Regions from separate parts of the Homo sapiens genome. Here region 1 is linked to region 2. Evidence: fine-mapped expression QTL. A gene starts in region 2. The other region holds a variant in brackets. All regions are shown on one strand. Distances are from middle to middle.

Region 1 (5,377 bases), 180 kb after region 2:
CAGCTTGACCTTGAAGAATTGATCACATCGTCGTTTCTTCCCATGAACCAAAAGTAGCCTTCCTTGTCCATGCGAGCTCGCTCCCCTGTGATATAAAAGCCCCCTTGTTCTGATGCAGCTGTCTTCTCAGGATTGTCCTGAAAGACAAAGACAACCCGTGAAGGACCCTCTGGGAACAACCGCTAAGGCCAGTTACTGCCCCAGTAGCCCCCTGTAGGAAGCTGGAGACCACTCAACAGAAAGTTCAGCAGTTCCTAAAGTCCCAGCTGCCCAGAGTTCCCCAATGGACAGGGAGCTATGGCCCTGTTTAGTTGTGGGATTTCCCTCTTTTGATTGGAATCAAGCTGCCAGCCAATGGTTAAGGGCAGCCACCCACCACCATCCTTAGAAGGGGGTCTAGAAAGCATAGTTGAAAGCAGGAGGGTGGGCACAGGGCCACTGGCTGTGGTTTTTAGGACAAGAGAACACATGAATACTCTTTGTGCTCAGGAATCACTGAGGGTAGAAAGTGAAGGGCTAGGCCGGGTGTGGTGGCTCATGCCTGTAATCCCAGCACTGTGGGAGGCTGAGGTGGGTGGATCACTTGAGGTTTGGAATTTGAGACCAGCTGGCCAATATAGTGAAACCCTGTCTCTATTAAAGATAAACAAATTAGCTGGGTGTGGTGGTGCATGCCTGTAATCCCAGCTACTTGGGAGGCTGAGGCAAGAGAATTGCTTAAACCTGAGAGAAAGCTGTGAAGAAAAGAAAGCCCGACATAAACACCAGCCAAGATGAATACAAAAGGAAGCAGTTACTGAATTATCCCAGAAACTTGGACTGAAATCCCAGGTTTGTGCCCTGCTAGCAAACCACAAAAAGAATCCTGAAGACAGCTCTGACACAATAGTGCAGTTTGACTTTTATGTATTTATTTATTTTATTATTATTATTATTATTATTATTATTATTATTATTATTATTATTATTTGAGACAGAGTCTCCTTCTCTTGCCCAGGCTGGAGTGCGGTGGCATGATCTTGGCTCACTGCAACCTCCTCCTCCCCGGTTCAAGCGATTCTCCTGCCTCAGCTTCCCAAGTAGCTGGGAATAGAGGCGTGTGCCACCATGCCTGGCTGATTTTTGTATTTTTGGTAGAAACGGGGTTTCACTATGCTGACCAGGCTGGTGTTGAACTCCTGACCTCAGGTGATCCACCTTCCTCGGCCTCCCAAAGTGCTGGGATTACAGGTGTGAGCCACCGCAACCGGCTGCAGTTTGACCTTCAGAAGCTCCTTTCCTTTACTGCGCCTCGATTTTCTCCTCATTAAAACAACGGTGCTGCCCTCATGTCATATGTTTACGCTTTCAGACACACCCACGTTTAAATCCCATGTCCTGCCTGTACTAGTTGCATGATGCTGGATAAGTCACTTCCCCTTTGTAGTAGCTTCCTTATTAATAATAGTCTTCCTTATCAATAACAGAACTTTATTAATAATAGTAGCAACCTACCTCATGCAGTCATTGTAAGGATTAAACAAATAGATACTTACAAAGTGTGGTGCACAATGCTTAGCACACAGTCACCGTCATGAGAACAGCTGTTCCCCGTCTCTTACCAAATAGCAATTGAAGAAACAGAAGGGCCGGGTGGTTCTGATACGACGGCAACATTCCCCTCTTCTCCAGGAGGCAGGACATTGCCCTCATCATCCACAATCTGGTAAGGAGATCATCACAGAGGTGCATACATGAGTGTCTACACCCTGGGCCCCTCCAGCAGCCCAGCAGCCCAGCAGCCCGTGCCAGCCAGGCCTGTGTGTCTTTCTCCTCTCCACGCCAGGCCTTGCCAGAAGTTGGGGGAGTCTGCTACCTGCACATTGTAGGGTGGGGACACCTTCCCCATGGATCCAGACTTGATTTTCATGCCTTTTGGATTGGCACAGATGACAACCTGGGGAGAACTCAGTACAGATAAAGAAGAGCCTTTCCACTTAGCTTCTTTCCTGGGCCATGCCTTTCTCTCACCCTGCCTGATAACTCTTTCTCTCATCCTCTTTTTTCTCCTCCCTCACTTTCTTCTTTCTTTCCCTTCTCCTCTCTCCATTTCTCTCCATTCTTCCTCCCTTCTTTCTTTTCTTTTTTCTTCCTTGCTCACTCCTTCCTTTCCTCTTTCTTTCCTTTCTTTCCCCTTTCCTGTTTTCTTCCTTCCCTCCTTCATTTTCTTTCCTCCTTCTTTTTTCATTCCTTAACCCGTTATTTCATTCTCCATTTTCCTCTCTCCTCCCTTCTTCTTTGTTCCCTATTTCCTTCCTTCCTTTCATCTTTTTCCTCTTCCTTCCTTCTTTTCCTTTCTCTTTCCTTTATTTCCTCTTTCCCTTCCTTCTTCATTTTCTTCCCTCTTTCTTGCCTGTCTTTCTTCTTTTCTTTCCATAGTTAGCAAACAACTATGGGGCACTCCAGTGGGCACTCAAACATAAAGAACTTAACCCATCTCTAAGCCAAAAGACTCAGTTGATCCCCAGATCTCTTCCTAGATGACTATAGAGGACGCTGCTTAGAATCTTGGACTCTGAACAGTGGCAGATGTAGACTGTCTTGGTGGAGACAAACAATGCCTTCAGCAGTGAGGGCTGGTTTGCTGGTCATGGTATAATTGTAAAAGTACTTTAAATTACCTTTTTTTAATTTATAAGTAGTGTGTGTGTGTGTGTGTGTGTGTGTGTGTGTGTGTATTTCAATAGCTTTTTGGGTACGAGCGTTTTATGTAACATGGATGAATTCTATACTGGTGAATCCTGAGATATTAGTGCATCTGTCACCTGAGTAGTGTACATTATACCCAATATGTAGTTTTTTTACCCTCACGCCCCTCCTCCCACCTTCCTCCTTCTGAGTCTCCAAAGTCTTTTATACCACTCTGTATGTCTTTGCATCCTCATAGCTTAGCTCCCACTTATAAGTGAGAACATATGGAAATCAAAAGGGAAGGAAAGCTGATGGAATTTTGTTATCGGCTTCTCCCCTGGGGGAAGGGTGGTCCCTGAGAAGCTTCAGAGAGGTGACAGCTGGAGAGGCAGGAAGCTCTCAAGCGGACCTGGGGGGTGGGGAC[C/G]TGGGGGGTAGGGACCTGGCCCCTCCAGCACTCACCGTTTCAGACTGGCCATAGCCTTCGTACAGCTCCACACCGGTCTGGCGTTTCCACTTCTCCCTCACGTCAGGGTTGAGGGCCTCTCCTCCGGTCAGACAGTGCCTCAGGCTCTGAAACTGGTACCTTCCTCAGGCAGGAAAACAAGGCCACCTATGTCAGGATCTTCATACCACCCCGCCCTCTGGTGCCACTGCCCAGATGCAAACACCACAGGCACTAGAGGTAGATGCCCCTGCTTTTTAATCTTCTCTAAGTGAGTCCACCCACTGGCTTTGCAACCATGCTCCTCATGGACAGATAATTTTTAAAAGATCCATCCCATCTGAGTTTGAGATAAAATCAGAAGCTCATATAATAGGTTTTGGCATAATATGGTGAGTTCCAGGTAACTTGGCCAAAATAATTTAGTTGGAAAAAAACTGATAATAAATTGGTTAGGACAGTAATCTGATTGAAAAGGATAGATCAATTAGAAATTGAAAAGATAGGCCAGGCACCATGGCTCACACCTGTAGTCCCAGCACTTTGGGAGGCCTAGGTGGGCAGATTGCATGATCTCAGGAGTTGAAGACCAGCCTGGTCAACGTGGTAAAACCCCGTCTCTACCAAAAAGTACTAAAACTTAGCCAGGTATGGTGGCACATGCCTGTAGTCCCAGCTACTTGGAAGGTTGAGGTGGGAGGAAAGCTGGAACCTGGGAGGCGGATGTTGCAGTAAGCCGAGATCATGCCACTGCACTCCAGCCTGGGCAACAGAGCAAGACTCTGTCTCTAAAATAAATAAATAAATAAAAATAAAAGAAAAAGGAAAAGAAAGGAAAGAAAAGAAAATTGAAAAGATAAAAATTAGACCCCTAAGAATCCCAAAAATTCCTACAGATATTAATTATGTTGCAAAATGCCCTCTCTGTTCAACAAATCATCCAAACTATTAAAAAAAAATCAGTGATTGTAAGTACATTTTTAATCTTGGAGGAGAGGGGAGATCAAATTGGCTTGATTAAGTTACTTATTATTACCAAAGAGCATTCAACGACATTGTTCTTAACGAGGTACTTGGAGCTTGCTTTCAGCCAAAATCATCATGTGGAGATGCACACATCAGATCAATGAATGGGATGATTTTCTTACATTGGAGAAGAATTCACTTTTAGAAACATGTAAGAACTCCCTCTTTTGGACACTTGGTGGGTAGATTCATGTGATTAGGAAAGAAGAAAGGACGACTCCTCATGACTTGGGGGAGGACAAAAGAGGGAGAACAGATCAGGGTTGGTGGATACTGAAGGATGGTGGGCCTCTCTCCATATACCCCAGCAACTAGCCCTGTTCTGCTAGAAGATGTTGCTTTGGCTTCACCCAGGATGGAGCCATCATCAGTGCCTTGTCCCTTTCTCTTGGGTGTCCAATGACATGTGCTCAGAGAACAGTTGGCTGGGGTTACTCTGAGGCTGAGAGTTGGGGCATCTACTGTGGTGCGGGCTTGTTAGTTTCACCACACCTGAGGGCCCTGGCCACAAACCGCACTCCATAGGTGGCTAACAATTGTCCAATCATTTCTCTTCCCTCACAGAAGTAGCAGACACACTGCTGACAGAATAGCCCATGGGTGTATGGTGTGAGGAGAAGCCTATCTCAGGTGCTAAAATTTCAGTCTGCCTTAAATCTATTTAGTTCCATCTGGATGCAAATTTTGGGGGGCCAGAAGCTTGTTCTTGAGGGGCATCTGTGAGATTTACAGGTATGTTGACTTGTCAATGTGTATGTGTATAAATGTGTGTGGGAGAGAGAGACAAAGAGAGAGGCAGAAAAATATATAGAGGGGGAGACAGAGAAAGAAAGAGAGTTGGAATGAGAGGGTAGTTGTGTGTGTGGATACCCATGCTATATATTCACATACTTAGGCCCTCAAAGCACGAAATAGATGGGCTGTACCTGGTCAGATCCTCCTGCACAAGCAGCCGAAAGATGGTTGGAACACAGCAGAGGGTGGTTATTGGGAATGTGGAGAGAGTCTAAACAAAAACAAAGGGTGAAAGATGTCCTTAGAATCACTGGGGTGGGGCCATGAAGATGGAGCCAAATGCATCTTTATAGTCTCAGTACCAAAGCAGAGAAGCTGAAAACTATGTGTGGAATCCAGCAGCCAACATGGTGTCCAGTGACCCCTACTTCCTGGCATGTTCAACTTTGGAGGATCCCCTCTCACCTCATACCAAAGTGGGTCTGTGACAGCAGTGGTATACTG
Region 2 (5,377 bases):
TTAATTGAAATCATACATCATCTTACTTAGAGAAACATTCATATTTTGTTACGTATGGGATTAATATATACTTTTTAAAAATAAAATTGTGATTATATTGTCTATAAAGTGTATCCAGTTCTTTCATTGAACATTTATGAAACATTTGTCATGACTTATGATTATATATTCTTCTAAAAAGTACTGATTGAGAGTAACGATATTGAGATTAGACTGCTGGAGAAATAATGTTCAACAGTCCGTCCACCCCTCTGAGGGTAGAGATTGTATCTTTACATCTGGCTGCAGATTCAGAGATGAGGTTGTATCCTGGGTCGCAGTAGAGGACTGAATGCTGAGCAAATGGACATTGAGGGCTCATAAGATGGTTCCCTGTGGCCAAGCTTGGCGGCAAGGGAGAGGAGCTGCCTGCGTGGAAATGGGCCAAACTGGCCAGGCCAGGAAATGAGACAGAGTCACAGGGGAACAACATACAGTGATGGATAAAAATCCAGGGTGAAGTTTGAATCACTGCAAAGATAGGCAGTTAATGGCTCAGCATCCTCTCTATAGGACACCCATAACCCTGTCATTTGCAACAACATGGATGGAACTGGAAGTCATTACATTAAGGGAAGTAAGCCAGGCATAGAAAGCAAACATTGCACATTCTCGCTTACCTGTGGGAGCTAAACAGGAAAACAAATGAACTCATGGAGACAGTAGAAGGACGGTTACCAGAGGCTGGAAAGTGTTGCAGGGAGTTGGAGGAGAAGTGGGGATGGTTAATGGGTACAAAAAAGTAGTAAGAGTGAATGAATAAGGCCTAGTATTTCCTAGCACAATAGGATGACTATCTTCAAAAATAATGTAACCATACACCTAAAATAACTACAATAGTATAAATGGATTGTTTGTAACACAAAGGATAAATGTTTGAGGTGATGGACACCCCATTTACCCTGATGTGATTCTAACGCATTGCATGCCTGTATCAAAATATCTCATGTAACCCATAAATGTATATACCTACTATGTACCCACAAAAATTAAAAATAATTTAAAAAGAACTTCAGAGAACAAACAACAAAAAGACCGGTATGGCTGGAGCAGACTGAGACAGGAGGTTTGAGGCGAAAGGCTCACAGGAATTCCTGTGGGGCCCTGTAGGCAATTGCCAGGACTTTTTTTTTTTTTTTGAGACGGAGTCTCACTCTGTCTCCCAGGCTGGAGTGCAGTGGCACGATCTCGGCTCACTGCAACCTGTGCCTCCCAGGTTCATGCCATTCTCCTGCCTCAGCCTCCAGAGTAGCTGGGACTACAGGCGCCCACCAGAGTAGCTGGGACTACAGGCGCCACCACGCCTGACTAATTTTTGTATTTTTAGTAGAGACAGGGTTTCGCCGTGTTAGTCAGGATGGTCTCAATCTTCAGACCTCGTGATCCGCCCGCCTTGGCCTCCCAAAGTGTTGGGATTACAGGCGTGAGCCATCCCACCCGGCAATCGTCAGGACTTTGGCTTGGACTGTGAGTGAGATAGGGAGTTGCAGGAAGCTTTTTCGAAAAACCACCTTTGGGCCAGGTGCAGTGGCTCCCACCTATAATCCCAGCACTTTGGGAGGCCAAAGCAGGCAGATCACTTAAGGTCAGGAATTTGAGACCAACCTGGCCAACATGTTGAAACCCCATCTCTACCAAAAAAATACAAAAATTAGCCAGGCATGGTGGTGCATGCCTATATTCCCCGCTACTCGGGAGGTTGAGGTGGGAGGATCGCTTGAACCCGGGAGGTGGAGGTTGCAGTGAGCCAAGATTGCGCCACTGCACTCCAGCCTGGGCGACAGAGCAAGAGCCTGTCTCCAAAAACAAACAAAAAAACCCAAAAAACTTCTTTTGGCAGTGTACAATTATTATTACTATTTTTTGTAGTAAATTTACAGAGATCTGCAGTCATGACCACAATCCAAATTTAGAACAATTCTATGACTTCAAAGGGATGCCTTAGAGCCGTTCCCTGGAACCACTCCTCTGTTCTCTCTGTATCTACTGGAGGGTTCTAAGCAGAAAAGAAACAAAGTCTGACTTATATTATTATCACTATTGCACCTTTTCTGTTAAAACATCATAATCCCAGCACTTTGGGAGGCCGAGGCGGGCGGATCACGAGGTCAGGAGATCGAGACCGTCCTGGCTAACACGGTGAAACCCCGTCTCTACTAAAAAATACAAAAAATTAGCCGGGCATGGTGGTGGGCGCCTGTAGTCCCAGCTACTCGGGAGCCTGAGGCAGGAGAATGGCGCAAACCCGGGAGGTAGAGCTTGGGGTGAGCCAAGATCGCGCCACTGCACTCCAGCCTGGGCCACAGAGGGAGACTCCGTCTCAAAACAAACAAACAAACAAAAAAAAAAACCCGTCATAATCTTCCTGTTGCTTTTTCCGATTAGATGGCGACTTGAATTTTTAGGGAATACATCCACCAGTTTGGGCACACCCACCAGGCACGACAGTTGAGGTCTGATCTTCCAGCCACTGTGAGTACTGAGAAAACTTGGCAGGGGGCCACTCTCACTGGCTCAATGCACCCTGACCACTGGAAGCCACTGTGTCAGCTGCTGGGTTCTGGCTCTGCCCACTCTTGGCTGCATTTGGGGCTGAAGTTCCCTGTGGGAGGCTGTTTTCTGAGGGAGCTGAGTGTTTACAGCCACTCAGCCCTGCTCTGCTCAGCTGAAGCAGAAAACAGAGACCTTTTGCATTACTTTGGTTCAAGAGCAAGGTAATTTGGAAAGAAATTTTTCAGACGAAGGTATCAGCTGCCTCTGAGGCCTTTGCTGATTAAATCAAGAAGTGACATCTGAAATGGTGTCGGGGAATGGGAAGGAGGCCTGGGGATTCTAAATTATCAGCTGTTTAGGTGGCTGAGGAATCCAGGGGTGGGAGACTGAGGAAAAGGACTGGGGCAGAGCTCAGTTCAGGAGAGGTGAGGGGCGGGAGAGGTGAGGGGCGGGAGAGGTGAGGGGCGGGAGAGGTGAGGGGCGGGAGAGGTGGGTCAGAGAAAGGAAGTCTCTGAGGCTGCAGGCCTAGGCCTGGTGGCCACTGCAGAGGCTGGGGCCTATGTTTTTCCAGGAAGTGAAACCTGAAAGTCACTTTTCCCCTTTAAGCCTCATTTTCTTTATCTTTAAATGGAGAAAATAACATTTACAGCATAGAGTTGTTATAAAGATTTCATGAAATAATGCCTCTAAGCACTCTTAAAATGCTTGGTACACAGTAGGCCTTCAATAGACTGAAGCTGTTATGGTTTTTCTTGTTGTGCCACGTTATTATTGTTGGTTGTTATTACCATATTTTGTTATTATTATTACTAAGAGGAATTTAATGCAAGGAAACTGAAACTGAGGTCACACGCAGCTCCCGGGCCAGTGCCTCTCAAACTTTAACATGCATATGACTCATCTGAAGATCCCGTTAACTTGCAGATTCTAATTCTACATATGTAGGGTGGGGTCCCATCTGCTGGTCCCAAGATCACACTTTGAGTAGCAAGACACTAAAACTGGGCTGGGCACAGTGGCTCACATCTGTAATCCCAGCACTTGGGAGGCCGAGTTGGGAGGATCACTTGAGGCCAGGGGTTCAAGCCCTGCCTGGGCAACATAGTGAGATCCTGTTTCTACAAAAAAACTTTTTAAAAGTTAGCCACACATGGTGGCTAGTGCCTGTAGTCCCAGCTACTAGGAAGCCTGGGGTGGAAGGACTGCTTGAGTTTGAGGCTGCAGTGAGCTATGATGGCACCACCGTACTCTAGCCTGGGCAGCAGAGTGAGACTCTGTCTCAAAAACAACAATAATAAAAATTTTAAAAATAATAAAATTAAATAAAAAAATTAAAAAGACACTAAAAGCCCATCATGCCATACAGCAGCCACTTGTGGCTTTTGAGCACTTGAAGTGTGGCTAGTCCAAATTGACATGTGTTTGTAAGGGTAAAGTCTATTTCAGATTGTGAGGACTTAGTACCAAAAAAAACAAAAAATAAATAAAAGTATGTAAAATATCTCTTTAACAATTTATTCTTCTATTGACTAGGAATTGAAATGGTCATACTTTGGCTCTATCTGGTTAAATAAAATGTTTTATTATAATAAATCTCACCTGCTTCTACTTTTCTTAATGGAAGTACTAGAACATTGTAAATTGCACAGGTGGCTCACGTTCTATTTCTGTTGGACAGTGCTGCCCTAGAGCTGTCTTCAGCTTTGCAAGGTCAGTTCAGGATTGGCCAAAGCCTTTTTGAGGGATTCCTTTTGAAGTATTGAGGTTTGAGAAGTGGGATCTGAGTTCTGACCTCAGACCCAGATACCCACAAGTCAGTGAGAGGTCAAAAGGACAGACCTCGGGGTCAGAGGAGAGAAATGACCATCACACAGCAGAACTGAGACTGAAGGTGGAGAGTTTATTCTACAAGTCAGTAAGGATCACAGTCACCATCAGCACTAACCACAGGTTTCTCCTAACCTATGTGTTGTCCCCAAAGCCCAGAATTTATGACAATGCCCTCTTTCCTCTCTTTGGTGACAGACAGGAGGCGACTGCATGAGACCATGGCTGAGACACCTAGTCCTCCAGGCACTGAGGAACTCCAGGGCATTCTGTGGGTCTCATGGGAAGCCAGCACCTCTACCTGTTCCTCAGAAGATCGTGGCCACCTGGGAAGCCATCAGCCTGGGAAGGCAGCTGGTGCCTGAGTACTTCAACTTCGCCCATGATGTGCTGGATGTGTGGAGTCGGCTGGAAGAGGTGAAGCCTGTTCTGTCCTAGAGTCCATCTGGGGCATCTGAGGCTGCCCTCATGTACCACAATGAGACTCAAGGCTCCAAGCATGTTGATGAGGAAATTTGGACCTGGGAATTTTGCTAGTTCTAAAATGTAAACTGTTGGCATTTGAGACTTAGGAAAAAATTCTGAGTCAGTGTTGTGAGCCTTAGACATGCTTGTTCCTTCTCTGAAGTGTCCTGCATTCTTGAGCCCAAATCACACAGTGAGACAGTTATGTCCCTTCCGATTCCCTTCCAGTTGTTCATCAACTGAAGGAGGAAGTTTTGTTTTGCTGCTACTCTGTCTTTGATGTTTTTCTCTCACTGTCACGCCCTTCTCTTCTAAATAAGGAAAGAAGGCCGGGCGCGGTGGCTCATGACCATAATCCCAGCACTTTGGGACACCGAGAAGGGCAGATCACCTGAGGTCAGGAGTTCGAGACCACCCTCACCAACATGGTGAAACTCCGTCTCTACTAAAAATAAAATAAAAAAAAATTACCCAGGCATGGTGGCGCACACCTGTAGTCCCAGCTACTTTGGAGGCTGAAGCATGAGAATTGCTTGAACTCGGGAGGCAGAGG

What was found. PIP is the estimated chance that this variant, and not a neighbour inherited with it, causes the effect.
Region 1: its variant is the best candidate, but not a certain one, in a credible set for the expression of ACSM5 in subcutaneous fat (TwinsUK, PIP 0.51).

The regions. Positions count from the first base shown.
Region 1 is chr16:20,590,701-20,596,077 of GRCh38, forward strand. It overlaps the pseudogene LOC112267906. Among named protein-coding and RNA genes, the nearest start is that of ACSM2B, 17 kb to the left of the region's middle. The variant C/G (reference allele first, on the strand shown) is at 3,095.
Region 2 is chr16:20,406,913-20,412,289 of GRCh38, forward strand. It overlaps ACSM5 (acyl-CoA synthetase medium chain family member 5), which reads left to right and starts at 2,622. Exons shown (of 14, transcript NM_017888.3): 1 at 2,622-2,753; 2 at 4,558-4,776. The coding sequence starts at 4,573.